4 linked regions of the Homo sapiens genome follow. The protein of the gene in region 1 interacts with the protein of each later gene in a pairwise test. Each region holds a gene or a part of one and is shown in the gene's direction. Other genes may lie near its edges. The genes, in order: CBARP, TRAF3IP3, SLC35F6 and ABHD16A.

What was found.
Region 2: the proteins of CBARP (region 1) and TRAF3IP3 interact in binary tests that used the Homo sapiens proteins (3 or more experiments, as listed by UniProt).
Region 3: the proteins of CBARP (region 1) and SLC35F6 interact in binary tests that used the Homo sapiens proteins (3 or more experiments, as listed by UniProt).
Region 4: the proteins of CBARP (region 1) and ABHD16A interact in binary tests that used the Homo sapiens proteins (3 or more experiments, as listed by UniProt).

The regions. Positions count from the first base shown.
Region 1 is NC_000019.10:1,228,006-1,235,025, reverse strand, and holds the end of CBARP (voltage-dependent calcium channel beta subunit-associated regulatory protein), read left to right. Parts: coding exon 1-25; intron 26-283; coding exon 284-455; intron 456-694; coding exon 695-835; intron 836-1,389; coding exon 1,390-1,600; intron 1,601-3,750; coding exon 3,751-3,925; coding exon of another isoform or gene 3,926-4,133; exon of another isoform or gene 4,134-4,883; coding exon 4,884-5,847; 3' UTR 5,848-6,739; downstream 6,740-7,020. UniProt on the Homo sapiens protein: Negatively regulates voltage-gated calcium channels by preventing the interaction between their alpha and beta subunits. Thereby, negatively regulates calcium channels activity at the plasma membrane and indirectly inhibits calcium-regulated exocytosis.
Region 2 is NC_000001.11:209,766,046-209,773,065, forward strand, and holds part of TRAF3IP3 (TRAF3-interacting JNK-activating modulator), read left to right. Parts: intron 1-2,519; exon of another isoform or gene 2,520-2,615; intron 2,616-6,902; coding exon 6,903-6,974; intron 6,975-7,020. UniProt on the Homo sapiens protein: Adapter protein that plays essential roles in both innate and adaptive immunity. Plays a crucial role in the regulation of thymocyte development.
Region 3 is NC_000002.12:26,759,401-26,767,284, forward strand, and holds the start of SLC35F6 (solute carrier family 35 member F6 precursor), read left to right. Parts: upstream 1-4,883; 5' UTR 4,884-4,949; coding exon 4,950-5,026; intron 5,027-7,884. UniProt on the Homo sapiens protein: Involved in the maintenance of mitochondrial membrane potential in pancreatic ductal adenocarcinoma (PDAC) cells. Promotes pancreatic ductal adenocarcinoma (PDAC) cell growth. May play a role as a nucleotide-sugar transporter.
Region 4 is NC_000006.12:31,693,323-31,700,342, reverse strand, and holds part of ABHD16A (phosphatidylserine lipase ABHD16A), read left to right. Parts: intron 1-3,309; coding exon 3,310-3,395; intron 3,396-6,910; coding exon 6,911-6,984; intron 6,985-7,020. UniProt on the Homo sapiens protein: Phosphatidylserine (PS) lipase that mediates the hydrolysis of phosphatidylserine to generate lysophosphatidylserine (LPS). LPS constitutes a class of signaling lipids that regulates immunological and neurological processes.

The DNA.
Region 1 (7,020 bases):
GCAAGACGCAGGACAAGGGTCGCCGGTAAGCGGGGCGGCGTTGGGAGGCACCCCAGGGCCTGTCTGAGGTCCTGGCCGCCGGGACGGGGGAGGAGCTGGGTGCGGAGGCTGCAGGGACCAAGGCAGAGGCTCCTGGACTGGGACCGTGGGGTGGGGCGGCCTTGGCCAGTTGCCCCCCTTTCGCCTGCCCCTGCCCAGGCCGGCAGGGTGGATGGCAGAGCACGGCAGCTGGGGCATCGGGCATGGGAGGTGGGCGGGCTCTGATGGCCAGATGCTGTCGCAGGTACACACTGACGGAGGGGGACTTCCACCACCTGAAGAATGCCCGGCTCACGCACCTGCACCTGCCGCCCCTCAAGATTGTCACCATCCACGAGTGTGACTCAGGCGAGGCCAGCTCAGCCACCACGCCCCACCCGGCCACCTCTCCCAAGGCCACTCTGGCCATCTTCCAGGTGAGCCTATGGGCAGCAGCCCCGGTTCCTCGGGGGACGGGAGGCAGCCCCGGGGACTCCCGGACCCCCACGCCCTCACCCACTCTTTTTCTGGGTGGCCCTCATCTCGGGATGGGCGGGGTGGGGTGGAGCAGGGCAGGGGGCCAAGCCCAGCATGCTCCTCACCTGCCCATGTCCCTCACCCACCCATGCTCTTTGACCTGTCACTGCTTCCTCCCCCACCTGGCTCTGTCCCACAGCCCCCGGGGAAGGCCCTCACCGGCCGCTCTGTGGGCCCCAGCTCCGCCCTGCCAGGTGACCCCTACAACTCAGCCGCGGGCGCCACTGACTTCGCAGAGATCAGCCCCTCGGCATCTAGCGACTCTGGGGAAGGCACCTCGGTGAGGGCCCCTGCGTGTCCCCCATGGTGTCCACAGCCGGGGAGGCTCCTTCCCCTCCCTGTCCCCAGTCCAGGACCAAGGTCAACCTATGACCTGCCAGCCACCGCAGCCCTCCTTGGCCCGCCGGGTCATTGCACACGGGAGAAAGAGGGAGCCGGCCGCACACCGGACACAGGCGTGTCCTCACACATGCAGGGGGCACCCCAGGCTCCCACCTCATTTGACATTCCCTAGGTTCTGGAGAGGGTGCGCCACCCCTGCCCTCCCTCACCTGCAGCCCACGCCGTGGGCGAGAGACCTTCTAGACACGCACCTCCTTTTCTCTCCAAACCCCATATCCAGGGACCTTCCCCAGAGGGCAGAGCACCTTAGTGTAGCCCACCCAGCCACTGAGCGCCCCTCCTCCCGCTTCTGCCCCTCTCCGAGCAGGTACCCCTCTCTGTCCCAGTGATGGGGGGCCCTTGGGACTGTCTCTCAGACCTACGGCCACCTGGGGCCAGCACACGGGCCCAGGAAGAAGTCTTAGCCTGAGCGCCATCTCTGTTCCCTGCCAGTTGGATGCCGGTACCAGGAGCACCAAGGCTGGAGGGCCCGGGGCTGCAGCAGGGCCTGGGGAGGCGGGCCCGGGATCCGGGGCAGGTACCGTTCTGCAGTTCCTCACCCGCCTGCGCCGCCATGCCAGCCTGGATGGGGCCAGCCCCTATTTCAAGGTCAAGAAGTGGAAGCTGGAGCCCAGCCAGCGGGCAGCCAGTCTGGACACGAGAGGTGAGCTGTAGCACCTGGTGGAGAGTGGGCCCCTGTGGGCTGGGTGCTGGCTGCCAGGGGCTGCCCTGGACATCCAGGAGCAGGAGGTTGTGGGCTGGGTGGGGAGCCGGTGCTCTGGGGCTGAGTCCTGCCCAGTCTGCCAGCGGGCGTGCTGCCTGAGGTTCTGCAGGTGGCTGGGAGGGCTGAGTGTGCGGGCGGCCTGAGCCAGACCCACCCAGCTCCGGGAACCTGTGCGGGAAGGCTTTGCGCGCCCCGACTGCTCTCGGGCCATTGGGGCATCCAGGATGAGGTGGTAAAGGAGGGTGTCGGGGGCCACCTGGTCACTGTGGAGCGCAGAGGGTGGGGCCTGTGGCCTGCATCCCCTCCCAGCCATGCTCGGCTCTCATCCCTGGGAATGTGAGTGGAAGGCGGGTTCCCCCGGGGCCCCTCCCTCGCCCGCTGGCAGACCATCAGCTGCTGTGTGACCTTGGCCGAGGCCCTCTGCCTGTCTGGGCTCTGACTTCCTCTAACACGAAGTAAGTGTTGGACTGGGCCAGGGGTCAGCAGACTTTTCCCATCAGGCCCCGGATGGTGGTGTTCGTGGGGTTATGGTCAGAGAGGCTGTGTCTCCACAACTCTGCTGCTGTTGAGGCGAGGAAGCAGTCAGAGGCGCTGCATGACGAATGCACGTGGCTGTGTGCCAGTAAAACTTACCGAAGCTCCGGGGCAGGGGGTGCTTTTGCCCTCTGGGCTGTAGCACATAGATCCCTGGACTGTTTGACAGTAGCCCTTCAATTCTGCAGGCCTTGGGTCAGGCAGGATCCTGGAGACAGGGCTGCCTTATCTGGGCTCGAGGCAGGAGTTTGTGTGGGGAGCAGAGGTGTCCCATCTGTAGCACTGGCAGCAGGCACCAGCCCTGCTCAGCCAGCTCAGCAGGGCCAGGGCAGCCCAGAGGGGCTGGGGCCCGCTCTGCCTTGTGGACAGGGTGGCAGGTCCTGTCGTCAGGTGAGGCCAGGATAGGGGACAAGTGCAGAGAGAAGGTGCTGTCAGCATGACAGAGGACACATCATCAGACAGTGGGAGACCCTGTGTTGTGGCTCCAGCCAGCGGGGGTGGGGTGAGTTCTCCCAGCCCCCACCCCCAAGGTAGCTAGGGGCCAGGGAGGGGAAGGCCTCCTCTGGCTGCCCCGCTCCAGCTGAGAGAATCCAGATCTTGAAATGAATGGGGCCCAGGGGTGACTAGAGACATTTAGAGTCCAATGTGGTTGCAGCACATCCCAGAACCTGTTTGCTGGGGCCTGCCCACTCAAGCTTTGCTGGGGAGGCTGTTGGGAGAAGGGGGCCGAGGCAGGGGTGGGGCAGTCCCCCAGCGCTCTCCAGACCAGGGTGGAGCTGGCAGGAGAGGGCACCTCTCTCCCTCTCCTCGTTGGCCCCCACCAGCCTGTATGTGACTCTCTCATGCCTTCCGTAGTTTCAGCCAGGCTGTGCAGGCCACCAGGTGTCCAGGACACGCCCTTATGAGTGGCCACATGTTGACCAGGGCTGCCACAAGGCACTATCGGTGCCAGAGGCCCTTCCACTCACTCGCTTCCTGGCCCTGCCCTGCTCAGGCTCTCTGGTCCCAGCACCTCTTCCCTCCGTGCCTCAGTTTTCTCACCTGTACTCCAGGGTGTACACACAGCCACTGTCCGCACCCACCTGACCCGGGGAGATGCCAGCCAGGGTCTGGCCCAAGCCAGGGCCCACTCCTGTGTGTGTGAGACAGAGACAGGGCACACGCGTTGTGTGTGTGTGGGGGCCACAGGTGTTCTGTGTGTAGGAGGGTACAGGCATTCTGTGGGGGGGGCACAGGCATGGGGGGTGCACAGGCGTTCTGTGGGGGGGGCACAGGCGTGTGTGTGTGAGGGGGCCACAGGCGTTCTGTGGTGGGGGGCACAGGCGTTCTATGTGTGTGTATGGGGGCCACAGGCGTTCTGTGTGTGGGGGGGGCCCAGGCGTTGTATGTGTGGGGGGCACACGTTGTGTGTGTGTGGTGGGGGTCCACAGGCGTTGTGTGTGGCGGGGGGGCACAGGCATTGTGTGTGTGTGGCGGGGGGGCATAGGCATTCTGTGTGTGTGTGGAGCGGGTGGAGGCACATGCCGGCTGACGCTTACGGCACATCCCGTGCGCAGGTTCCCCCAAGCGGCACCACTTCCAGCGGCAGCGGGCAGCCAGTGAGAGCACGGAGCAGGAGGAGGGGGATGCCCCCCAGGAGGACTTCATCCAGTACATTGCCCGGGCGGGCGACGCCGTGGCCTTCCCGCACCCCCGCCCCTTTCTGGCCAGCCCGCCCCCTGCTCTCGGCAGGTATTTTTCAGTAGATGGAGGTGCTAGGGGTGGACCTGTGGGCCCTTGCCCCCCTTCGCCCCCCCCTAGGCGGCCCAGGGAGCGCTCTCCAGGCCCCGTGGACACGCGCTCGCCTGCCTCCAGCGGCAAGGCCCCTCCCAGAGGCGGACTCACTGGGGCCACCTCTCCAGCATGGACCAGAGGAGGGAAGCAGGGAGAGACTGGGTAAGGGTAGGGCGGTGGGTGGGGAGGAGGGGCCCCCCGAGGATGGCGCTGGTACTGCTGCTTGCTGGTGGAGTCCGAGGCCTGAAGGGTTCTGCTGTGGTCCCAGGCCCTCTCCCACCCCCGCCCCGCCCATGCTCCCAAGGCTGGGCAGACTCCTCTCAGAAGCTGCTGTGACCACTCCGGCCAGCAGCACCCCTCCCCCAACCCAAGGGCAACTTCCCTGAAGCCCAGGGCCCACGTCGGTGGGATGGGAATGGGGCGTGGGGCTGGGGCAGAGCAGGGTTCCTGGGGCAGCCCTGGTATGGCGGGTGACCCTCACGTCTGTGCACTGTCCTCCTGCTGGTTATCCAGCATGGGTGGGCAGAGAGCCCTAGCCTGGAGCAGGGGCTGAGCTGGACTCAACCGCGTCCAGTCCATCCCCTGCGGCTCCCACGTCCACTGGGAGGCTGGGAAAACGTGACTCCCGGAGAGAAGCATGTTGACTTTTCCTGGGGGCTTCCAAGGGAGGGGGCCCCGCCGTCTGCAGTCCAGCATGGAGGCACCCTGCTTAATAAGCAGGCGCCACAGCTCAGGGTCAATGCAAGACGCATCCCCTGCAAAACACACTGGCTCATTTTAAAGCTCTCACCTTCCAAGGCCCGCCCGAGTCCCAAGTCCCACCCGCGTCCACCCTCCCTGATCCAGAGGCGGGATGGCCGGCCGGGTAGGGGGCGCGGGGCTCGGCGGGGCTCTGACGGCGCGGCCTGGCTTGCAGGCTAGAGGCGGCCGAGGCAGCGGGAGGAGCGAGCCCCGATTCCCCCCCGGAGCGCGGCGCGGGCAGCGCGGGGCCTGAGCAGCAGCAGCCGCCACTGGAGCCGGACGCCGAGCGGGACGCGGGCCCCGAGCAGGCCCAGACCAGCTACCGCGACCTGTGGAGCCTGCGCGCCTCGCTTGAGCTGCATGCGGCCGCCTCGGACCACAGCAGCAGCGGCAACGACCGCGACTCGGTGCGCAGCGGCGACAGCTCGGGCTCAGGCTCCGGGGGCGCGGCGCCCGCCTTCCCGCCGCCCTCCCCGCCCGCGCCGCGGCCCAAGGACGGCGAGGCGCGCCGGCTGCTGCAGATGGACAGTGGCTACGCCAGCATCGAGGGCCGCGGCGCAGGCGACGACACCGAGCCACCTGCCGCGCCCGCCCGGCCCCGCAGCCCGCGCGCCTGGCCCCGCCGCCCGCGCCGCGACTACAGCATCGACGAGAAGACGGACGCGCTGTTCCACGAGTTCCTGCGCCACGACCCGCACTTCGACGACACGCCGGCTGCCGCGCGACACCGCGCCCGCGCGCACCCGCACGCCCGCAAACAGTGGCAGCGTGGCCGGCAGCACAGCGACCCCGGCGCCCGCGCGGCCCCGGCCCTGGCCGGAACCCCGGCACCGCCTGCCGGCGCGGCCCGACCCGCGCGTGCGCCCTTGCGGCGCGGCGACAGCGTGGACGGCCCGCCCGACGGTCGCACCCTGGGCGGCGCCGGCGACGACCCCGCCATCCCCGTCATCGAGGAGGAGCCGGGCGGCGGGGGGTGCCCCGGCTCGGGCCTGTGCGTCCTACCATCCGGGTCGGTGCTGGACAAGCTGGCGGCTGGCCTCGACGAGAGACTCTTTCCGCCGCGCCTCGCCGAGCCCGTCGTGGCGACTCCCGCGTTGGTCGCCGCCGCCCCCACGTCCCCCGACCACAGCCCGGCCTAAGTCCCGCGTCCTGGGCCCATCTCTCTGGCAGCTTCTCCGGCGCCGCACGGGGCCTCGGCGGCGGGAGAGACGTGGGGGCGCGACGCCCCGACGCGAATGCGCGGGGACCGCGGGCCCTTCGCGCACGCGCCGGGCGACGGAGGCGCGCTCGCCGCTTCAGGGCGCAGGCGCAGAGCCCCGGCCGCCCTCGCGCCGCCGAAGTGTGCACTGCTCTTTCCGGTGCTTGCCGGGTGCTGGGCGTCGTGAGGCGCGGGCCGCGGAGACCCCGGCTGGGCGGGAAGGAAGGGGCGTGAACGGCTCTCAGCTTCGGGCTCCTGAGGACAACGATCACTCGCCCTCAGTCCCGGACGGGGCGGCCGCTTAGTCGCAGGGCCCGCCACCCGAGGGTCGCGCAGCCCACTGGGCCCGATGGAGCCGCCGCGTGCCGGGCGCGTGCGCGAGCTCGCCCGGGCGGGGGCCGCGGGGCGCTAACGGTCGCAGACGAGTTCGCCGCCCTGGGCCGGGAGGCGGCTCAACACCGTGACTGCCGACCTCCGAGACCGTTTACCTCACTGCGGCGTGTGCTGGCGGCAGCCCGCGCCGCCTCCGAGCAATAACCGCGCCGCCACCGCTGCTGCCGCCGGCCCTGAGGGAGCCGGCCCCGGCCCTCCCGCGCCCCGAGTCCCCACTGCCCTCCGCATGTCAACGGCGCCCGCCCCGCTGCCGCCCCATCCACGTTGAGACGCGAACAAAACCCAGACGGCCAGGTCCAAGCTTCCCAAGCTTTATTTATTGCCAAATTTGGGCGGCCTCGCCCGCACGGCACCCTCCGAGTCCCCGCCGCGTCTGCACCATCCCGCGATGGCGTTTCTCGTGTTTTTCTTTTCTGGATGATATAAATATTGACCGCACACTCCTGCTTGCTCCGGGTTTTCTCTGGGGTCCCAAGAGCGCAGTGGCCTTGGGGGAGAGGTGAGGGTCCTGCCCTCCGGCCGGGCCGCCAAAGCAGGGTGACCCGAGAGCGCAAAGGCGGCCGCGACGTGAGCCCGACCCCACAGCCCCCCTGCCACCCAGCAGCTCCCAAACACCCCTCACAGCCACAGCTCAAATCCACCTTTTATTTTTTCTTAAAAAAAAAAAGAAAAAAAGAAAATGGAACCAACCAAACAAAAAACCAAAGCGGCCGCGCGGCTT
Region 2 (7,020 bases), on another chromosome or scaffold:
CCGGCCTGTGTGACATCTCACCCTACCTTGAAGATGGCTTGAGCAGAGAAAGAAAGATGATGGGAGAGTATGGAACAAAACTGAGAAGTTGCAGTGATGTAAAAAAGATTTCCTAAGCTCAGCCCTGCTCCTCACGTCAGACATTGTACCTGGATTTCTCAATCTGTGGTCAGAGCTCCTGATTGTTAGGTCATTTTCATTGACAGAGCAGGAACTTGGGGCAGACAGCTGTGCACGTGAGGTGGTTTCTGGTCCTGAACTAAATTGAGATCATCTCACTCATTTGTTTGACAGTCATTTGATAAGTTCCAACTCTGTGCTGGGCCTTGTGCTACAGGGGCAAAGAGCATTACAGTCCTAACTCTTGAGGAGCTCACAGTCCAGCCATGAAGACAGAGACATGTAATAAATAACACCAAAACAGTATAATAAGGCTATAGCAGCAGTGCATAAAGCATGATGCAGGAAAAAGAGAAAGAAGGCAGCAATTATTCCACCTGAGGTGGAACAGGGAAGGCTTTAAAGGAAGGAAACCTGGCCAGGCACGGCAGCTCATGCCTATAATCCCAGCACTTTGGGAGGCCAAGGCAGGTGGACCACTTGAGGCCAGGAGTTCAAGACCAGCCTGGCCAACATGGCGAAAACCCGTCTCTACTAAAGATACAAAAATTAGCTGAGCGTAATCGTGCATGCCTGAAGTCCGAGCTACTCAGGAGGCTGAGACACAAGAATTGCTTGAACCCAGGAGGTGGAGGTTGCAGTGAGCTGAGATTGTGCCACTGCACTCCAGCCTGGGTGACGGAGCAAGATTCTGTCTCAAAAAATAAAAATAAAGGAAAGAAACCATTTTAGCTGAATCTTGAAGGATGAGTAGGAGCTAACCAGTAGAGAAGCAAGAGTGATGATGAGGGAAAAAAGCAGAAAGTAGAAGAGTGTTTAAGGTAAAGGAATTGGAATGATTACAGGCCTATGTATGGCAAAGAATTGGGTATAGCAGAGTATGGCTGAAATGAAGGTATGCCAGAGTAGTACCAAAGAAAGGATCTCAGACAGGTCTTTAGAATTATGGGTCTTAAACTTTTTCTGTTGAACAAGGTATCTCAAACTTGAATAATGCATGGACCCATTTTTAAAGGAAACCCATATATGTATATATATAAAATCAGAGATCCTTTAGAATGCATGCTACCCAGCTTGAGAAACACTGCTATAGGTAATAAGCTGAGTAAGAATGGAACTATGCTTTATTGAGGTATAAAGTCCTACACTTAGCAATGTCTGGCTCATCCTTAGAAGGTATGCAATTACTATCTGAGGAAATGACTTGTGAATGATCAGATCTGTGTCTTAAAAAGTTCTGTAATTTCCAACTGGATGCAGTGTCTCACACCTGTAATCCCAACACTTTGGGGGGCCAAGGCAGAAGGATCACTTGAGTGATCAAGACCAGCCTGGGCAACATAGTGAGACCTCATCTCTATTAAAAATAAAAAAATTAGCCATGCATGGTGGTACACACCTATAGTCACAGCTACTTGGGAGGCTGAGGCAGGAGGATCGCTTGAGCCCAGGAGGTCCAGGCTGCACCACTGTACTCCTGCATGGGGTAACAGAGCAAGACCCTGTCTTGAAAAAAAAAAAAGAGGGGGGAGGGTTCAAGGATTATCTAACTTGTAGCAATAAGAACCCTGGCTCCAAGCAGGGGTTGGGGGAGTTGAGACTCTTGTAATATCCCAGGTAAGACACAACCAGAGCTTGAATCAAAGCAAGCTTTGTGGGAATGAGGGGGGATATATTAAGAGACATTTCTGGGTTTGTCTCCAAGGAGGAGTTTCACCCCATGCTCCAGCCCAAGAGCAGAAGTTCCCTTGGTTGTGGTTTCCTCCCTCCCTTCTTCTCACCCCTCCCAATCCTCACCCTTCTCTTCTTTGTCCCTCCTCCCCACCAACCCCCTAGCTTCCAGTTTTAAAGAAAAACAGTCTCAGACTTTTTCAGTTAACAGCTATTGTTTCCCCTAAAATAAGGTAATTCAACTCTCTATCTCTTCCATGAAAGCCTCAACTCCAATAAAAGTATAGCCCCAAACTGTGGTATCTGGGAAAAATAATTGGAAGAAAGTGGCCAGAACTGGTTCAGACCTTTATTTTTGCCATTTGACCTTCATAAATTTGAATTTCCAACTTCACATGCTGAGAACTTACCACAAACTCCCTATTAGAATCCCAAGGATCAGCTCCCTCCGCTGGCTTCACCTCCGGATGTCTCTGGGCCTTTTGGATACCATAGGCTCTGGGGCACTATTGAGACTCCTGAGGAGGGTCCAACCTTCAGGGCAGAAACAGCTCTACTAGCAGAGAAAGCAAGCTTTCAATATTGTGCAATACAAAAACGAGAGCAGGGCAGCCTTGGGTTTGAAGATCTGCGTCCTGGAATTAAGATCTTGAGATGACAGCGCAGCGGGGATTGGCTGAAGCCCTAAGCAACCTCTACTAGAGCAGAGAGATGAGCTGTGGGCTGGTGCTTCTGTGGTGAGGTGGTGGTGTTTCTGGAGAGCAGATCAGAGGCAGGGGAAAACCACGCAGAAGCAGGAGCTGAAGACCTCAGACCGGCACCAGGTGTGTATGGCCTCCGCCTTGCTCCTCTCTTCACTGGGGTTTATATGCCCTCTGAGCCCTCGGCTCCCGGGGTCTAACTGCCTAGAATGTCAGCAGTAGGCCTGTAAAAAGTGCTTCTTCCCACATACTGTAACACTGGGCTTCAGTGTGGGGGACCCTGGGGCTCAGACCAGGAAACTACATGCCCGATTTGCAACAACTTGGCTGCGACTTTTATGACGTTTTGGGGAGTCCAGAAAAGCAGAGCTGTGGAAAGAGGTTTCATTCAAGCTCCAGACTTGGGTGGCCCTTCATCCCCACTGAAGTGGCTATGGTAAATTGTCTTCCGTTGCAACACGAATGGAAAAGTAATTTGGGGTTGGGCCAATACAAAAACAGTTGAAAGAGGCAAAATATTGGATTAAAGCCATACTATGGAATGGGGAGAGAGGAGGTACCCCAAAAGGGTAGGAGACTGGGAAAATTTTAAGAATATTGCCTTAGGCCTGCTATATTCCCAAAATACAGCAAGATAAACCTTAAATTTGGTAGGTTTGATTGCATTCTGCATAGAAAGAGTTTGGGCAAAGGCAAATGTGTGGAACCGAAGATGTGAACCAGAGGAGGTAGGTGTAGAGCCAGTTGATTTCAGGACCTGTGGATTGACAATGAACAGGCCACAGTGGAATGCAGCCGTTTTACCAGTTACTTCAAAGCTCAAACAGTAGAAGTCTTTGTCCACGTCTTCCATCGGTCCCAAAGCCCTCTGCTTATTGTAGATGCCAAATCCCTGACTCTCTGCTCTCCCTCACATGAGACGTTAGGAAAAACATTAATAGCAGGAGGCACTTTAAAAAATTATTTTTGGCAACACTTTTTGCTTTTGCAAGCCCCAGCTGAGTAACACAGGAAGCTGAAAGGGTGGGGGCACCCCCTGGCTCCCATGGTTAGAAGAATAAGCCAAACAAGATCAAAACAGGAGCTGCGAGATACCACTTCCTGCCTCTCCCAGGCACCCTGAAACTCACTGAGGGAGGCGGACCTCAAAGCCGAGCCCCCTCCTCTACCCCCAGACCATTACAAACCGGAAATGTTATAAGAGATGGAAATGTCCAGGCCATCTGGCTGAGAGAGCCCATGGCGTCTCGGGCCTAAAGAGAGGTGGAATTTCAAGACCTCACAAGCGTCCCACTTGGCCTGGTTGGAAAAAGCCAGAGAAAAGATAGGAAAACCGGTCACTGCCCTTTCTCTGGAAAACTTGCTCTCATTGATGGCTCCTCCGCCCCCTCCCCTACACAGATACACCCTACACAAAACTCCAGGCTGGAAGAACAAAACCCCTACCTGGGCAAAAGGGGCAAGTCTACAAAGGGAGGGGACAAAAAAGTGGCAGGGAAGCTGTAGCTACTAAGCTGAAATACTGAAAAACCGAGAAACAGATTGGCTCTTCATGCCGGCCTTGCTCCCCTCTCGCCCTTGAGATTAGCATCTTTCTTGGAATGTCGAAAATACCATTAGACAGCCCCAGCTTATGAATAAATAGAATGTGACTTTCTGGGAAGCTCCCTTACACCCCCTGCCGCCCTCACTCTGCTTTAATATCTCTCCGTTTCTTGCTTTCTTAAAGAAGTTCTCATCTTGAGTCTAGTATGTACGTGTGCATGTGGAAATGTATGTATGCAGGTGGAGGTGTGTGTGTGGAGATGGAAGTGTGTATGTCCAGATGGAATTGTGCGTGTGCATGTGGAGGTGTGTGTGTGCAGGTGGAGGTGTGTGTGTGCATGTGGAGGTGTGTGTGTGCAGGTGGAGGTATGTGTGTGCATGTGGAGGTGTGTGTGTGCATGTGGAAGTGTGCGTGTGCATGTGAAAGTATGTGTGTGCAGGTGGAAGTGTGCGTGTGCAGGTGGAGGTGTGTGTGTCCAGGTAGAATGTGTGTGCATGTGGAGGTGTATCTGTGCATGTGGAGGTGTGTGTGCAGCTGGAAGTTGTGTGCAGGTGGAGGTGCACATGTGCATGTGAAGGTGTGTGTGTGCATATGGAGGTGTGTGTGTGCATGTGGAGGTGTGTGTGTGCAGGTGGAGGTGTGCGTGTGCAGGTGGAGGTGTGCGTGTGCAGGTGGAGGTGTGCGTGTGCCTATGGAGGTGTGTGTGTGTGCATATGGAGGTGTGTGTGTGCAGGTGGAGGTGTGTGTCTATATAGAAGTGTGTGTGTGCATGTGAAAGTGTGTGTGTGCCATGTGGAGGTGTGCGTGTGCAGGTGAAGGTGTGCGTGTGCAGGTGAAGGTGTGCGTGTGCAGGTGGAGGTGTGCGTGTGCATGTGGAGGGGTGCGTGTGCATGTGGAGGTGTGTGTGTGCAGGTGGAGGTGTGCGTGTGCATGTGGATGTGTGTGTGTGCTCAGGTGGAAGTGTGCGTGTGCATGTGGAGGTGTGTGTGCAGGTGGAGGTGTGTGTGTGCAGGTGGAAGTGTGCATGCATGTGGAAGTGTGCGTGTGCATATGGATGTGTGTGCATGTGAAGGTTGTGTGCATGTGGAGGTGTGCGTGCGCATGTGGAGGTGTGCGTGTTCATGTGAAGGTGTGTGTGTGCATGTGAAGGTATGTGTGTGCAGGTGGAGGTGTGTGTCCCTACGGAGGTGTGCATCTGCATGTGAAGGTGTGCGTGTGCATGTGAAGGTGTGTGTGTGCATGTGGAGGTGTATCTGTGCATGTGGAGGTGTGCGTGTGCAGCTGGAGGTGTGTGTGCAGGTGGAAGTGTGCATGTGCATGTGAAGGTATGCATGTGCAGGTGGAGGTGTGTGCATGTGGAGGTGTGTGTGCATGTGAAGGTGTGCGTGTGCATATGGAGGTGTGCGTGTGCATGTGAAGGTGTGTGTGAAGGTGTGTGTGTGCAGGTGGAGGTACGTGTATGCAGGTGGAGGTGTATGTGTGCAGTGGAAGTGTACGTGTGCATGTGGAGGTGTGTGTGCGCATGTGGTGTGCGTGTGCATATGGAGGTGTGCGTGTGCATGTGAAGGTGTGCATGTGAAGGTGTGTGTTCAGGTGGAGGTACGTGTGTGCAGGTGGAGGTGTATGTGTGCAGGTGGAAGTGTACGTGTGCATGTGGAGGTGTGTGCGCGCATGTGAAGGTGTGTGTGTATATGGAGGTGTGCGTGTGCATATGCAGGTGTGCGTGTGCATGTGAAGGTGTGTGTGTGCAGGTGGAGGTACGTGTGTGCAGGTGGAAGTGTACGTGTGCATGTGGAGGTGTGTGCGCGCATGTGAAGGTGTGTGTGTATATGGAGGTGTGCGTGTGCATATGCAGGTGTGCGTGTGCATGTGAAGGTGTGTGTGTGCAGGTGGAGGTACGTGTGTGCAGGTGGAAGTGTATGTGTGCAGGTGGAAGTGTACGTGTGCATGTGGAGGTGTGTGTGCACATGTGAAGGTGTGTGTATATGGAGGTGTGTGTGTGCATGTGGAGGTGTGTGTGGCAGGGAGGGGAGTGTATTAATCTCCTAGGGCTGCTATGACAAAGTACCACAGTCAGGGGAACTTCAAAAACAAACTTATTTTCTCATAGTTCTGGAGGCTAAAAGTCTGAGATCGAGGTGTCAGCAGAGTTCGTTTCTCCTGCGGTCTCTCTTCCTGGCTTACAGATTGCCATCTCTCTCTGTGTCTCCACATGGCCTTCCTGCAGTGCCCTGATCTCCTCTTTTAATAAGGACATCCATCATATTGGATTAGGGCCAGCTTAATGGCCTCATTTTAACTTAACTACATCTTTAAAGACCCTTTCTCCAAATATGGTCACATTCTGGGGCACTCGGGGCTTAGGACTTCAACATAGAAATGTTGAGGAGATATAAATGAGCTCATAACCGAGGGCAAGGGAGGGAATAAACATTCTCCCGGGAGGGGAGACTGCGTTAGCCTCACTGGCCTACATTTTACAGGGAAAAGTCCACGTACAAGACTGAGAAGAGGTGAGGAGTGCAGAAGTGCCTAGACAGGGGAGGGAGATAGTGAGCGAAAGGGTAGCTTAGAAGCTTTCCTTCCGGGGCCCCCCTGCTATGCTACCCTGAGCCATTTGATAAAAATCGAGGTAAAAAGAGGACTTGAGGCCAGTCTTATTCTTTCTTGTCCTAGTCCAGAGAAACAGGAGAAGATCCTCTTCTATCCAGCATCCTTTGTCATCTTTGCTCCTGCCTGCCTCCTGAAAGAGTTCACTGTTTGAGCACCAACCATGTGCTGGGCAGTAGAATAGGAATATAGAGTCAAACTCTTTGCAGACTAGATTTTGCCCCAAGCTCATTAACTCATCCCATTTGCTCCAGGGACAGCTTAATGAAGACAAACTGAAGGGGAAACTGAGATCCTTAGAAAACCAGCTATACACCTGTACCCAGGTAAGCATTCTGAAGGATACTTCCATCTCAGGAATCTAGAATTAAA
Region 3 (7,884 bases), on another chromosome or scaffold:
CTGAGGTCAGGAGTTTGAGACCAGCCTGGCCAACACAGTAAAACCCTGTCTCTACTAAAAATACAAAAATTAGCTGGGTGTGGTGGTGTACGCCTGTACTCCCAGCTACTTGGGAGGGTGAGGCAGGAGAAGCCTGGGCAACAGAGCAAGACTCCATCTCAAAAAAAAAAAAGTTCAGAAGAAACCTCTTCTGGGTCTTCCAACTCCGCACTGACTGAAAGGAGAAGAGGCTCCAATTAAAGAAAATTCTAGAACATTCTGTGGGTCCCAGGCTTGTTCCACACTCACACCTCTGCACCGCTGTACATGCCATGTCCATCTGCAAGAAAGCCCTTCTGCTGTCTATCTGGGGACCTCCTATGTTTTTTCCAGGATCCCACTTATACACCTTCTCCAGCAGGTCTTCCTGCAATAAGGGAGTCTGGTGCAGCCCCTTGAGAGTTCTGCGTCCACTCTGGCCTTTTTCACAAGTTCGAGGCTGTCTTAGGGCAAGTAGGAGGAGTTGGCAGACAGGTCCTATCTCTGTACCTCTTGTTGATCTATTTGTTTAATTTAAAAAATTTGTGTGTGTGTGAGATAGGGTCTTGCTCTGTTGCCCAGGCTGAAGTGCAGGGGCATGACCACGGTTTACTGCAGCCTCAAAGTCCTGTGCTCAAGCAATCCTCCTGCCTCAGCTTCTCCAGTAACTGGGCTCACAGGCCCGCACTACCACCCCTGACTAATTTTTAAGTGTTTTTGTAGAGATGAGGGTCTGGCTATGTTGCCCAAGCTGCTCTCAAATTCCTGGGATTAGGAGGCCTCAGCCTCCCAAAGTGCTAGGATAACAGGTGTGAGCCACCACACGGGCCACCTCCTGTTCATCTAAAATGAAGTTGCTAGCCATCTGGGCGTGGTGGCTTACACCTGTAATCCCAACACTTTGGGAGGCCAAGGTGGGTGGATCACTTGAGGTCAGGAGTTCAAGACCAGCCTGGCCAACACGGTGAAACCCCATCTCGACTATAAATACAAAAAATGTAGCTGGGCATGGTGGTGCTCACCTGTAATCCCAGCTACTCGGGAGGCTGAGGCAGGGGAATTGCTTGAACCTGGGAGGCAGAAGTTGTAGTGAGCCAAGAATGTGCCACTGCACTCCAGACTGGACGACAGAGCACCACTTCATCTTAAAAAAAACAAGAAGGTGCCAAGGCACAAAATATAAGTTAAACAGTTTACTTGAGCCAAAATGAGGACAGCTGCCCAAAAGACTCAGACGCAAGTAATCTTGGATGTGAGCTCCCTTCTCTCTTTGTTACAAACAGGTTTTTAAAGGCAGAAAAAGGAGGACAGGGAGTGGGCTGATACAAAGTTGTTTGTCAGAAATTCTCATTGGTTTACAGAAATAACATTGATTAGTGATTGGCTGTACAGTGCTATAGGATGTAAGATATGGTGTCCAGTGCAGCATTGTTAGGTTATAGCTACCTGTGGCAATAGCAAGCAGTTTCAAGACATAAATACATAACTCAAAGTGGGAGTAGGACGTGATTGCTGTCTTATTTTAATGTCTCTCTGGGCCTGATAACTTACAGGACTCGCATTCCTCAGGTAAAAGTTCTTTTCTCACCACAGAAACAAGATCTGCAGCATAGGGGAAGTGTGTTGGCTCGGTCTGAAGTCGTTTTCCAAAGTGTCAGAGACATTTAAATCAGAGCAACTCCATCTTGAACAGGGGCTGGGTAAAACGAGGCTGAGACCTACTGGGCTGCATTCCCAGGAGGTTAGGCATTCTAAGTCACAGGTCGAGATAGGAAGTGGGCACAAGGTACAGGTCACAAAGACCTTGCTGATAAAACAGGATGCAGTAAAGAAGCCGGCCAAAACCCACCAAAACCAAGATGGCGACAAAAGTGACCTCTGGTTTTTCTCACTGCTTGTTATACACTATTTATAATGCATTAGCATGCTAAAAGACACTCGCACCAGCGCGCGACAGTTTACAGATGCCATGGTAGCAACTGGAAGTTAACCTACATGGTCTAAAAAGGGGAGGAACACTTAGTTCTGGCAATTGCCCACCCCTTTCCCAGAAAACTCATGAATAATCCACCCCTTGTTTGGCATATAATCCAGAAATATCCATAAAAATAACCAATCAGCAGCCCTCGGGGCTGCTCTGCCAATGGAGTAGCCATTCTTTATCCTTTACTTTCTTAATAAACTTGTTTTCACTTTATGGATTCCCCGCAAGGTGCCAGGTCCAAGAACCCTCTCTTGAGGTCTGGATCAGAACCCCTTTCTGGTAACAAAAGGATCTTGTCGCTGGCGTGACAGGGCATGGGTGCAGACTAGAGCACTGGGAAAGGCATATTAGGAGCAGTTTTTTCTTTTCTTTTTCTTTCTTTTTTTTTTTTTTTTTGAGATGGAGTTTTCGCGCTTGTTGCCCAGGCTGGAGTGCAATGGCTCGATCTTGGCTCACTGCAACTTCCATCTCCCAGGTTCAAGCGATTCTCCTGCCTCAGCCTCCGGAGTAGCTGAGATTACAAGCATGCACCCCCACACCTGGCTAATTTTTTGTATTTTAGTAGAGATGGGGTTTCACCATGTTGGTCAGGCTGATCTTGAATTCCGACCTCAGGTGATCCACCTGCCTCAGCCTCCCAAAGTGCTGGGATTACAGGTGCGAGCCACCGCGCCTGGCCTTTTTTTTTTCTTTTTTTAAGACAGGGTGTCACTTTGCCACCCAGGCCGGAGTATAGTGGCATGATCTCAGTTCATTGCAACCTCCACCTCCAGGGACTCAAGCGATCCTCCTACTTAGCCTCCTGAGTAGCTGGGATTATGGGTACTTGTCATGACACTCAGCTAATTTTTGCATTTTTAGTAGAGACTGAGTTTTGCCATGTTGCCCAGGCTTGTCTGGAAATCCTGAGCTCAAGCAATCAGCCCGCTTCAGCCTCCCAAAGTGCTAGGATTATAGGTGTGAACCACCACACCCAGCCAAGAGTAGGATTTTAAACACCAGAACCCCTTGAGGACTAAGCTCTGATTTTTTTTACCTTGCCCAAATTCCTACCTAAGAGGTCTGGAGAGTCATGCCCTACAAACCATAAATTCTCATCAGATGGGTTTTATTTAACCCTATATATCATGACTTACTTTCCAATCTGACTCTGGCATAATATTATGTGACTAAGAAGAAAGTCAAAAGATTTTACCCCAAAACATTTTTCTTTGCCATATCTTGAAATGGCCCTGCAAATCTGTCTTTTGTGGGGGAAAATTTGCATCTGTAAAGAATCTCTATTACCGGCCGGGCGTGGCGGATCACGCCTGTAATCCCAGCACTTTGGGAGGCCGAGGCAGGTGGATCAGGAGTTCAAGACCAGCCTGGCCAACATGGTGAGACCCCCCCCATCTCTACTAGAAATACAAAATTTAGCCAGGCGTGGTGGCAGGCACCTGTAGTCCCAGCTACTTGGGAGGCTGAGGCAGAGAACTGATTGAATCCGGGAGGTGGAGGTTGCAGTGAGCCGAGATCGCACCACTGCACTCCAGCCTGGGCGACAGAGCAAGACTCCGTCTCAAAAAAAAACAAAAATCTCTATTAACATAGATAGATATTTTTCCCGTTTCCTGCCCCACCCTCTCCCCTCCTCCCGGCTTTGAGTTGTCCTACCTTTCTGGACCAAACCAATGTATTTCTTAAATGTATTTGATTGATGTCTCGTGTCTTTCTAAAATGCTGCGCCCCGACCACTTTGGGCACATGTTCTCAGGACCTCCTGAGGGCTGTGTCACGGGCCATGGTCACAAATATTTGGCTCAGAATAAATCCCTTCAAATATTTTAGAGTGTGACTCTTCGTCAACACCCTCTTCAAACAAACCTAGGGATGGTCTTTCTGCCTGGATGCCTCAGCTGCGACCAGAAAGTCCACAAAGGAGCAGTGAAGCAGGGCTTGGTGCAGAGGCCATGCGGAAGGCACGGATTTTTGGAGACTGGAGAACCCAAGCGCAAATCCCTACCCCACTGCTCACCAGCAGGTTCTTAAGCAAATCACTCTGCTTCGCTGAATTTACTGTCCTCAGCTATAAAATGGTGTCCTCGGCAACTGGAGCTAGATGCCTTCGCCACTTTGCTGAAAGATATGAACTGTGCCCAAGGTGGGCGGTATCAGATAGGAGCCCCGAAGTGGAAACGTCCAGCGTGGGAATCTCCTCTCTACAGGGTCCCCAAGGAACTCCCGGCAGGCCCACTTCAGGGCTCCTTTCTGACACCGCCCAGCTCAACCTCTCAAAACGATTCACAAAATGCTGTAATAGCCACGATGCACCCTCACTGCACTGTCCCATCCGCCCCTTTTACAAATAGGAAGACCCAAAGATAAAAATAAGAAACCAAGGCCAGGCGCGGTGGTTCACGCCTGTAATCCCAATACTTTGGGATGCGGAGGAGGGCGGATCACCTGAGGTCGGGAGTTCGAGACCAGCCTGGCCAACATGGTGAAGCCCTGTCTCTACTAAAAATACAAAAAATTAGCCGGGCGTGGTGAAGGGCGCCTGTAATCCGAGCTACTCGGGAGGCTGAAGCAGGAGAATCGCTTGAACCCAGGAGGCGGATATTGCAGTGAGCCGAGATCATGCCATTGCACTCCAGCCTGGGCGACAGAGTGAGACTCCTTCTCAAAAAAATAGAAAAAAGAAACCCAAAAAGGCGGGGGAGAGTGAGGAAGAAAAGAAAAAAAAAACTGGAAGGCCTGGGCCGTGATTTGCCAGGGCCACGGCGTGGCCACCAAAGCGCTCCAGGACGACTCGGCAGAGCGCGGGCACCGTGGCTCAGGCGCGCTCCCCGGGGGCGGGGCGAGCAGGAGGGGTCACGTGACGCCCGGCCCGGAAGCGCTCGCGCAGGAGACCCCGGGTGACGGGGCCCGGCGCCGCTAACTGGAGCGAACCCCAGCGTCCGCCGACATGGCCTGGACCAAGTACCAGCTGTTCCTGGCCGGGCTCATGCTTGTTACCGGCTCCATCAACACGCTCTCGGCAAAGTGAGTCTGGGCCCTGCCGGGCGTGCGGGCCCTGGCGACCCCGGCGCTCGTTCTACGCCTTCCCCCTTCTTGGCCCTGCCCTCCTGGCTTCCCCTGCTTTCCCACTTGCTCCGGTCAGTTCGCGCGCGTTATGACCACCCAAGGGATGCGAGGCCCGGGGAAATGCGGAGCGGGGCTGCGCCCCGGACGGGGGGATCCGAGCCCCGGCTTTGATTTGCTGTACAGCCTCCGCTCCTGTTTCCACGTCTTTTAACAGGAGGGTTGGCCGATTCCTTTCCACGGCCCTTCCAGTGCTGGCGTCCAAGCCTGAGCACCTCCCTCCACGAGCTGGGAGAGACCCCTGGACTTGTGCACATGAGCCGCAGTAGTGGCTGTGCAGGCCGAGTGACCCAGTGAGCGTGGAGGCCTCAAGCGGCAGACAGGGAGGTGCCCCACGGCCCCTCAAGGATGAGGGGTTAGAGCTGTGCTTTGAAGCTTAGGTGGGATTTCGGAATGTGTCTGAGACTGTAAGTCAAGGAAAGTCTACGGAAAGGCCAGATCAAAGTCGATTGTAACCAGCATCAAATGCCCAGGTTAGATTTTCTCTCATAATCAGAAAAGTGCTTTTGAGCTGGGGAATGACATGTTGAAAGTGATATGATTGACTCAATGACATGAGGAGTGGTTTGGTGCAGGAAAAACCACTCCAAGGCTGCTGCATAGCAGATGAGGGGAACTAGGAGGTGGCAGTGAGAAGAGAAAGGAAGGGACAACTGGTGGCAGAGACCAGGTGTGAATGGCCACAGGCCTGACCCACATGAGCAAGAAACAAGGATCACTCCAGGGTTTCTGCCTGGGAGAAGAAAAGTGCCATTAACTCAGACAGAGAGGGCAAGTGGCCAGTTCAGCTCTGATGTATGGGGGTGAGAGGGGGGACAGTTCCCAGGAGGTTAGGGACTAAGGACCCAGGCAGTCATGAGACTGAGGGACAGGGCCTAGCCTCCCCTCTGTTGTGGGCAGGATGGCATTTCTTTGTCTCTCTCTGTCTCCATCTCAGGGCAGGGCCTTCCTGCCCCTCCTTTTCTTGTTGCCCAGGCTGGAGTGCAATGGCACGATCCCATGTATAAGGTACCTACGGTGTGTAAGGGAAGGGGACAGAAGTGACCAAGAGGCGATCTCTGCCTTTGAGATGCTTGGAATCTGAGGTGGAGGAGACAGACGTGTACGCACACGACAGTCACAGTGTTCTCCCTTCCCCAAACGGTGGGCACAGTCAGTGGAGTCCTGGGTGGGCCCCACCTGTTCCTCTGGTTCACCTCTGGCCAACTGTGCCTTGTGGAGAACTACTAGCTTCCCAGGCCCTGCATCCTCCTGAGGATCACTCCTCATGCTGAATCCTTAGCTGTTCAGAGGCCCCAGCCTGAGGGCTCCCATCTCAGGATCTGAACACAGCAAAGCAAGTCTTCTGTTCTGTCATGCCAGCCAGGGCCTCTGTCAAGTGCTTAGAGAGCGGTTGTAAGTCCACCAGGGCTGCTGCCCACAAGGAGAATCCAGATTGCCAGTTACTGCTGGGGTAAACTGTGCTGATTCACCTCCTTCCTTAGAAAACTCCAAACCAGTCAGGTAGGAAGCTTAGAGATCCTCAATCCCAGAAGGCGTCGCCTTTAAAGGCTGCCTGAGAGTCAGGAAAGAGGCTCCCAGGTGACAGACCCAACTTTTGGTCCTGTCCCCTGCCTGACAGCTGGTGTGGGGCCTCTCAGGATCCTCCCACCCCAAGATGGGCCCCCAAATTGGACCCTAAACAGTGTTCTAAGGTCAAACCACAAGAAGGGATACTCTTAGGGAGAAAGAACATGTGGGAGCAGCTGCATGCACCCCGATGTGAAGTATGGATTTGAAATCACATTTCTGGCCCGGCGCGGTGGCTTACGCCTGTCATCCCAGCACTTTGGGAGGCAGAAGCGGCTGGATCACTTGAGGTCAGGAGTTTGAAACCAGCCTGACCAATATGGTGAAACTGCATCTCTACTAAAAATACAAAAATTAGCTGGGCGTGGTAGTGCGCACCTGTAGTCCCAGCTACTTGGGAGGCTGAGACAGGAGAATTGCTTGAACCCGGGAGGCGGAGGTTGCAATGAGCCAAGATTGCACCACTGCCCTCCAACCTGGGTGACAGAGTGAGACTCGGTCTCAAAAAAAAAAATAAAAGGAAATCACATTTTTGACCCACGATTTCCAGCAGGCACAGACAGACAAGCATGTGCTGACAACTAGCAGAAGCATCTCATGCACAAAGAGCACCTCGCATGCCCCAGGCCCTGCTCTGCCCTTTCATGTGTGAACTCAGGGAATTCTCATAACCACCCTATCAGGCAAAGACAGGGGCTGATATTCCTGTATAAGGAAACTGAGGTAGGAAATGATTAAATTCCTTGCCCAAGTTCAACTTAGCTACTAAGTGGCAGAGTTTATAGTTGAGCCAGCATGGTCTGGCTCTAGCATCCATGCTCTTAACCACCACTGGAGGGTGTGGCTGGGGACTTCTCCAGTCATTTTGGGGTCATTTAGAGTTGTTAAAAGCATAGAAATCATCCAGTCTAATCCCCACAATTTACAAAGGAGGCCTCAGGAGAAGTTTCTTTCTGTGATTCAACTGTTTGGTGTCTGAATGAAGGCTGGAACCCAGGCCTCAGGACTTTAAGTCCTGTTCTTTTATGACTGTGATACCCCAGAGTCCCTCCTTCCTGGGAGTTTCCTCTCACAGCTCCCCAGGCCAGGACAGAGAAGCCTGTGCTTGTGGAAGTTGTAAACCTGTAAGTGGCATCTGCGCTCCCAGCCTTTGATGTGCCTCTCTCCAGGACTGGGCTGCCAGCCTCTCA
Region 4 (7,020 bases), on another chromosome or scaffold:
ACCAGCCTGACCAACATGGTAAAACCCCGTCTCTACCAAAAATACAAAAATTAGCTGGGCATGGTGGCACGTGCCTGTAATCCCAGCTACTTAGGAGGCTGAGGCAGGAGAATAGCTTGAACCTGGGAGGCAAAGGTTGCAGTGAGACGAGATTGCGCTACTGCACTCCATCCTGGGCAACAGAGCAAGACTCCGTCTCAAAAAAAAAAAAAAGTTCCATGCAATAGCCATGCAAGAGAACACTATATAGCAATGCAAATGAACAAACTGTAGCTACGCTCAACAACGCAGATGAAGCCAGGTGCAGTGGCTCATGCCTGTAATCCTAGCAGTTTGGTAGGCTGAAGCAGGCAGATCACCAGAGGTCAGGAGTTCAAGACCAGTCTGTCCAACATGGTGAAACCCCGTCTCTACTAAACATACAAAAAAAAATTAGCCAGGTATGGTGGTGAGCACCTGTAATCCCAGCTATTCGGGAGGCTGAGGCAGTAGAATTGCTTGAATCCAAGAGGCAGAGGTTGCAGTGAGCCAAGATTGCGCTACTGTACTGCATCCTGGGCAACAGAGCAAGGCTCCATCTCAGAAAAAATAAAATACAAAAAATTAACTGGGCATGGTGGCACATGCCTATAGTCTTAACTGCTTGGGAGGCTAAGGCATGAGAACTGCTTGAACCTGGGAGGCAGAGGTTGCAGTGAGCCAAGATAGCACCACTGCACTCCAGTCTGGGTGACAGAGCGAGACTCTGTCTCCAGATAAACAAAAGCAATGCAGATGAATTTCTCAAATGTTGTGTTAAATAGAAGAAGCTAACCACAAAATAATGTATGCAGTATGTTTTCATTTATATAAAATTCAAAAGGGATGTGCATGTTTGAGGTAGAACACCGAAGACAACAAGGGCATGGTTTTCTTTTTTTTTTTTTTTTTTTTTGAGACGGAGTCTCGCTCTGTCCCCCAGGCTGGAGTGCAGTGGCGCGATCTCGGCTCACTGCAAGCTCCGCCTCCCGGGTTCACGCCATTCTCCTGCTTCAGCCTCCCGAGTAGCTGGGACTACAGGCGCCCACCACCACACCCGGCTAGGTTTTTTTGTATTTTTTAGTAGAGATGGGGTTTCACCGTGTTAGCCAGGATGGTCTCAATCTCCTGACCTCGTGATCCACCCGCCTCGGCCTCCCAAAGTGCTGAGATTACAGGCTTGAGCCACCGCGCCCAGCAAGGGCATGGTTTTCTCAAAAGTTAGGAGAGTGATTACCTGGGGTGGGGGAGAACAGAGTGGGGGAGAGCCCTGCTGAGAGGTGGCTGTGTTCTCTTTGTTGACCTAGGTGATAGTCACATGAATGTTTGCTTTGTATTTTTTAAACTGAATATATGTTTTATGTACATATGTTGTATCTCGCAATTTAAAAAAATAAAGAGGACAGATCACCTACCCCTAGTGGGTACATAAGATGACAACCAGGTGATGGGCGATGCTTCAACATGGGGGTGGTGGGGTCAGGGCTGGATGGTCGCAGTTGGGTCCAGGACCTTCTGCCTGAGGTGTTCTGCCCCCTGATCTCTGCAGGGCTGGGCTCTCTCCTCAGAGAGGCCTTCCCTGACCACCCTGTCTAAAAGTAGCTCCCACTGCTCAGTTTTGTCTTAGTTTTTTATTTTATTTATTTTTAATTTAGAAAAAATACAGAAAAAATTAGCTGTGCATGGTGGCGGGCGCTTGTAATCCCAGCTATTTGGGAGGCTGTGGCAGGAGAATCACTTGAACCCGGGAGGCGGAGGTTGCAGTGAGCCGAGAGCACATCATTGCACTCCCGCCTGGGCAACAAGAGCAAAACTGTCTCAAAAAAAAGAAAAAAGAAAAAATACAGAAAAGTCCAGAGAACAAAATATAAAAGCCTTTTTAAATTTTTTGATGTATAGTTTTGTGATTTTTTTTTTATATATAGTTTTGTGATATTTGCTTTAAATGCTTTCTGTCAACAAAATACTAAAGCACCACAGTTAGGGTTGGAGTTCCCATTGGAATCCTTTCAGTCCCATCTTCCTCTTTCCTCAGAAGTAATAATTGTCATTTGGTGTGGGTTTTTTTTTTTTCTGGCACATACTTTTATGAAACATATACCTCAGTTCCTCAAGTCTAAGCTGCCATCAATTGTAAAATGAATTCTAATTTCAGAGTTTTCAAGGGTTAAAAAATATACATTTTAGAATCTATGAAATATGGTATCTATAAGCAGTATGTATTATTTTGCACATTTTACATTTTTGGCATAAATGTTGTACAAATCATTCTGCAGCACACATCATTCTCTCATCATATCGTTTTGGGGGAATACCATTGATGACACATAAAGTTCTGGTTCATTCTTGTTGTATTTTCTCTGTAGCACTTATCCCTCTCTGAAATGTTGTTTATTGTCTTCTCCTGGCTGTACCTAACCCCAACCAGAATGCCAGCTCTCTGAGAGCCAGGAGCTGTGTATCTCATTTCCTGCTGAGTCTCCCGTGTGTAGTACGGTGCCTGTCTGACACACGACACCTGCCAAGTCAGTGAGGAGAGAAGTTAGGGTTTGAGGTGGCTCAGCAGTGAAAGGAGAGTGGATGCAATCACTGACTGTGTAAGTGAAAAGAGAGAGGAGAGAGAGTCAGCACTGAGAGTTGCTTCTGCTTCAGAAAGGAAAGCAGAAAGGAGGCAGGAGAGGAACTGTTCAGGAACTGGAAGGAGTCAAGGATGGGCCCAGGAAGCAGAGGCAGGAAGAATCTTGAGGGACAGGGAGAATGCTGAGTAGTACAGTTGAAGAGAATGAGGATAGAAGAGTCAGGAATTCAGTGAGGAAGTAATTATGGGCAGGAGTCGGAGACTCTGAAGCCAGATGGCAAGGGGCTAGAATATACAGAAAAGAGGCAGAAAGCAAACATTGGAGAAGAATGGCAGTGAAAAATAGAGAAATTTGATATTCGCAAGGGAGAATAGTATTATATGATAGTGTTTAATAGTGTCATTTAATAGGTTATATGACAGTGTTTAAAGACTGAGGAAGAGGAACATTCTGGAAGATGGTAGGTTAAGGATTGTCTATAAAGACACAAACTGCAGAAGCTAGGGAGAAGAAGCGTCCTGTAGCCAGTTGCTGGATTTGGAGGAAGGGGGTTGGCTCACATCTATTTCTCCGCATCCTATGCCCTCAGTTCCTTTTTCTTTCACTTTTTCTTACAGGGCCTTCTTCTAGCCCATCTCCAATTCTTTTCCTAAAACCTAGGCTTTCTGCTTCCCAGTTTTCCTAGCACTGTTTCCTGTCCTTTTTCTACCAGGCATTGGCCGCTGGACCAACCCCCAGTACCGGCAGTTCATCACCATCTTGGAAGCAACACATCGGAACCAGTCTTCAGAAAACAAGGTGAGAGGCCCTAGGAAAAGTGCCACACAGGCACCCAATAGCAGCTTTCTCAGTTGTCCCTCAGAGCACCAGACACTGGCTTCTGCAGGAAGAGGAGGTGTGTTTTACCACCCACCACACTGGGTGTTTGCTTGCACATTGCTGTATCCCTTCTCACCTCCATTAGTGAACTGTCCACCTGAGGAATTTTTCCTCCCTACCACTTCTAATGGAATATTCTGCTAGAACAATCTTCCCCCTCCCTCACCTGTAAGAACTGGCTAAACTAGAAACATTCCACAATGTTTCTTTTTTCTTTTTCTTTTTTTTTTTTTGAGATGGAGTTTCGCTCTTGTTGCCCAGGCTGGAGTGCAATGGCACGATCTCGGCTCACTGCACTCTCCACCTCCCAGGTTCAAGTGATTCTCCTGTCTCAGCTTCCTGAGTAGCTAGGATTACAGGCACGCACCACCCACACCCTCTAATTTTTGTATTTTTTGTAGAGACGGGGTTTCACCATGTTGGCTAGGCTGGTCTCCAACTCATGACCTCAGGCGATCTGCCTGCCCCAGCCTCCCAAAGTGCTGGGATTACAGGCGTGAGCCACCACTCCTGGCCTCTTTTTTTTTTTTTCTTCTTTGAGACAGAGTCTCACTCTTACTCAGGCTGGAGTATAGTGGTACAATCTCAGTTTACTACAACCTCCAACTCCCGGGTTCAAACAATGCTCATGCCTCAGCCTCCTGAGTAGCTGGAATTACAGGTGCACACCACCACGCCCAGTTAATTTTTTTTTTTTTTTTTTGAGACGGAGTCTCACTCTGTCGCCCAGGCTGGAGTGCAGTGGCGCCATCTCAGCTTACTGCAAGCTCGGCCTCCCGGGTTCATGCCATTGTCCTGCCTCAGCCCCCTGAGTAGCTGGGACTACAGGCGCCTGCCACCACGCCCGGCTAATTTTTTTATTTTTAGTAGAGACGGGGTTTCACCATGTTAGCCAGGATGGTCTTGATCTCCTGACCTTGTGATCCGCCTGCCTCGGCCTCCCAAAGTGCTGGGATTACAGGCGTGAGCCACCGTGCCTGGCCAATTTTTGTATTTTTAGCAGAGACAGGGTTTCATCATGTTGGCCAGGCTAGTCTTGAACTCCTGACTGCAGACGATCTGCCTGCCTTGGCCTTCCAAAGTGCTGGGATTATAGGTGTGAGCCACTGTGCCTGGCCCACAGTGTTTCTTTTTTTTTCTTTTGAGATGGAGTTTCGCTCTTGTTGCCCAGGCTGGCGTGCAATGGCATGATTCCAGCTCACTGCAACCTCCGCCTCCTGGGTTCAAGCGATTCTCCTGCCTCAGCCTCCCAAGTAGCTGGGATTACAGGCATGCGCCACCACGCCCAGCTAATATTGTATTTTTAGTAGAGATGGGGTTTAGCTGTGTTGGTCAGGCTGGTCTCAAACTCCTGACCTCAGGTGATCCACCTGCCTTGGCCTCCCAAAGTGCTGGGATTACAGGTGTGAGCCACTGCACCCAGCCCACAATGTTTCTTAGAAGGTAGTTTTCTCTGTATCACAGCAGCTCAGTTCTATAAATGTTTAATTTTGTTGTATGCATTGAATACCATGCTATCCTTGTTTGTGGATGGGACAAGGTGGACAGGTGTGTCCACTCCTATGCCTGGGAGTACAGCATGGTGCCAGGAGGGAGAAAAGCTAGGGCTCAGTGTCTTGGGAATTATGCCAAGCCGGCTGGTGCTGGACTGTGATTATCTTTGAGGATGGGCTTTGGGGCCCCATAGAGCTCTTTTCTGTTATGGGAGGTTTCTAGGATCAAACAGCTATGACCACCATCATCACATTCCTGGCTACTCCACACTATGGAGCTGCGTAATGATGCCCTGTACTATGCTACTGGCTGAAGCATTTGGCACACACCCTTTCTGATCCTCACAACAGCTGAGTGAGGTGGCATTATTACCTTTATTTGTAAATGTGAGAAAACAGAGGCAAAAAGAGGTTAAGTGACCCATTCGGAGTCATAGAGCAAGAAAGTGGCTAAGTCCAGATTTGAGAGCAGGTCTGAGCAAAGCCTGCCTGAAATTTGCTTTTAGTCATCTTGTTTTGTTTTGCCATTTACCTTTTTGTATAATTTTTCTATTGCTCTCTGTTAGTCAAATTATTTTTGAAATGTCAAAAAATTTCTGTGCAGAAAATAAAAACCCTCAAAATAGAGTGCTAGGAGCTCAGGGGGTGGGGGACGAATATAGTCAAGTATTAAGACACAGCTAGGCCGGGCGCGGTGGCTCACACCTGTAATCCCAGCACTTTGGAAGGCCGAGGCGGGTGGATCACGAGGTCAGGAGATCAAGACCATCCTGGCTAACATGGTGAAACCCCATCTCTGCTAAAGGTACAAAAATTAGCCGGGCATGGTGGTGGCAGGCACCTGTAGTCCCAGCTACTTGGAGGCTGAGGCGGGAGAATGGCGTGAAGCCGGGAGGCAGAGCTTGCAGTGATCCGAGATCGTGCCACTGCACTCCAGCCTGGGCGACAGAGTGAGACTCCATCTCAAAAAAAAAAAAAAAAAAAAAGACACAGCTCCCACTGCCGTCAAAAAACGTGGAGCTGGTGAGGTGGTTCATGCCTATAATCCCAGCACTTTCGGAAGCCAAGGCAGGAGGATCGCTTCAGCCCAGGAGTTGGAGACCAGCCTGGGCAACATAGTAAGACCTTGTCTCTAAAGAAAATTTTAAAAATTAGCTGGGCATGGTAGCACATGTCTGTAGTCCCAGCTACTCCAGAGGCTAAGGTAGGAGGATCACTTGGGCCTGGGAGTTTGAGGCTGCAGTGAGCTATGATTGCACCAACTGCATTCCAGCCTGGGCAACAGCACGAGACCCTGCCTCAAAAAAAAAAAAAAAGGCATGTGGACTGGCTCAGTGGGGTGGCCCGAGGTTCGGATGGGCTGTAGGGCAACACTGATCCATGGCTGCAGGAGTTGAGGAAGGGATGTAGTTGTGAGGATGGAAGTCAGAGCTTCCTTCAACGGGTGGCCCCACATGGCAGAGGAGCCCACTGTGGGCGTGACTTCCCTCCTCTCTGTCTCACTCAACCTTGGGTCTGTCAGTGTGATCTGCTGGGAGATTTCTAAGCTTCTAAGACAGCACCCTATAAGGGACCCAGGTGGGGAATAGACCGTGACCAGCCAGCGACCCCTACTACCCGTCACTCAAAAGCACTAGCACCTTCAGCCACTCCTCCTGGGGATGGGTCAGACTTAGTTTTTTAGAAAAGCAGAGTGTTAGGTTCTTAGCTTGGAAGAGGGCAGACAGGCCAGTCCTGATACCTGATGGGGCATACCATCTCCCCTGATTTTCTGGTCCTGTTAGAATTTTCCATCTGAGAATTGGGAGGGTATTGACCTCCGCTTGGTTTCCCCATGATGTGTGGGGATCAGACCCCTGGATAACGAAGGTGTTGTTGAGGGTGGGTAGGAGAGCCTCCCCTGAGTTCTCAGTACCCCTTTGCCTCTCGTGCCCACTGCAGAGGCAGCTTGCCAACTACAACTTTGACTTCCGGAGCTGGCCAGTCGACTTCCACTGGGAAGAACCCAGCAGCCGGTGAGGCCCCAGTTCTTTTGCTGTATCTCTCCCCTT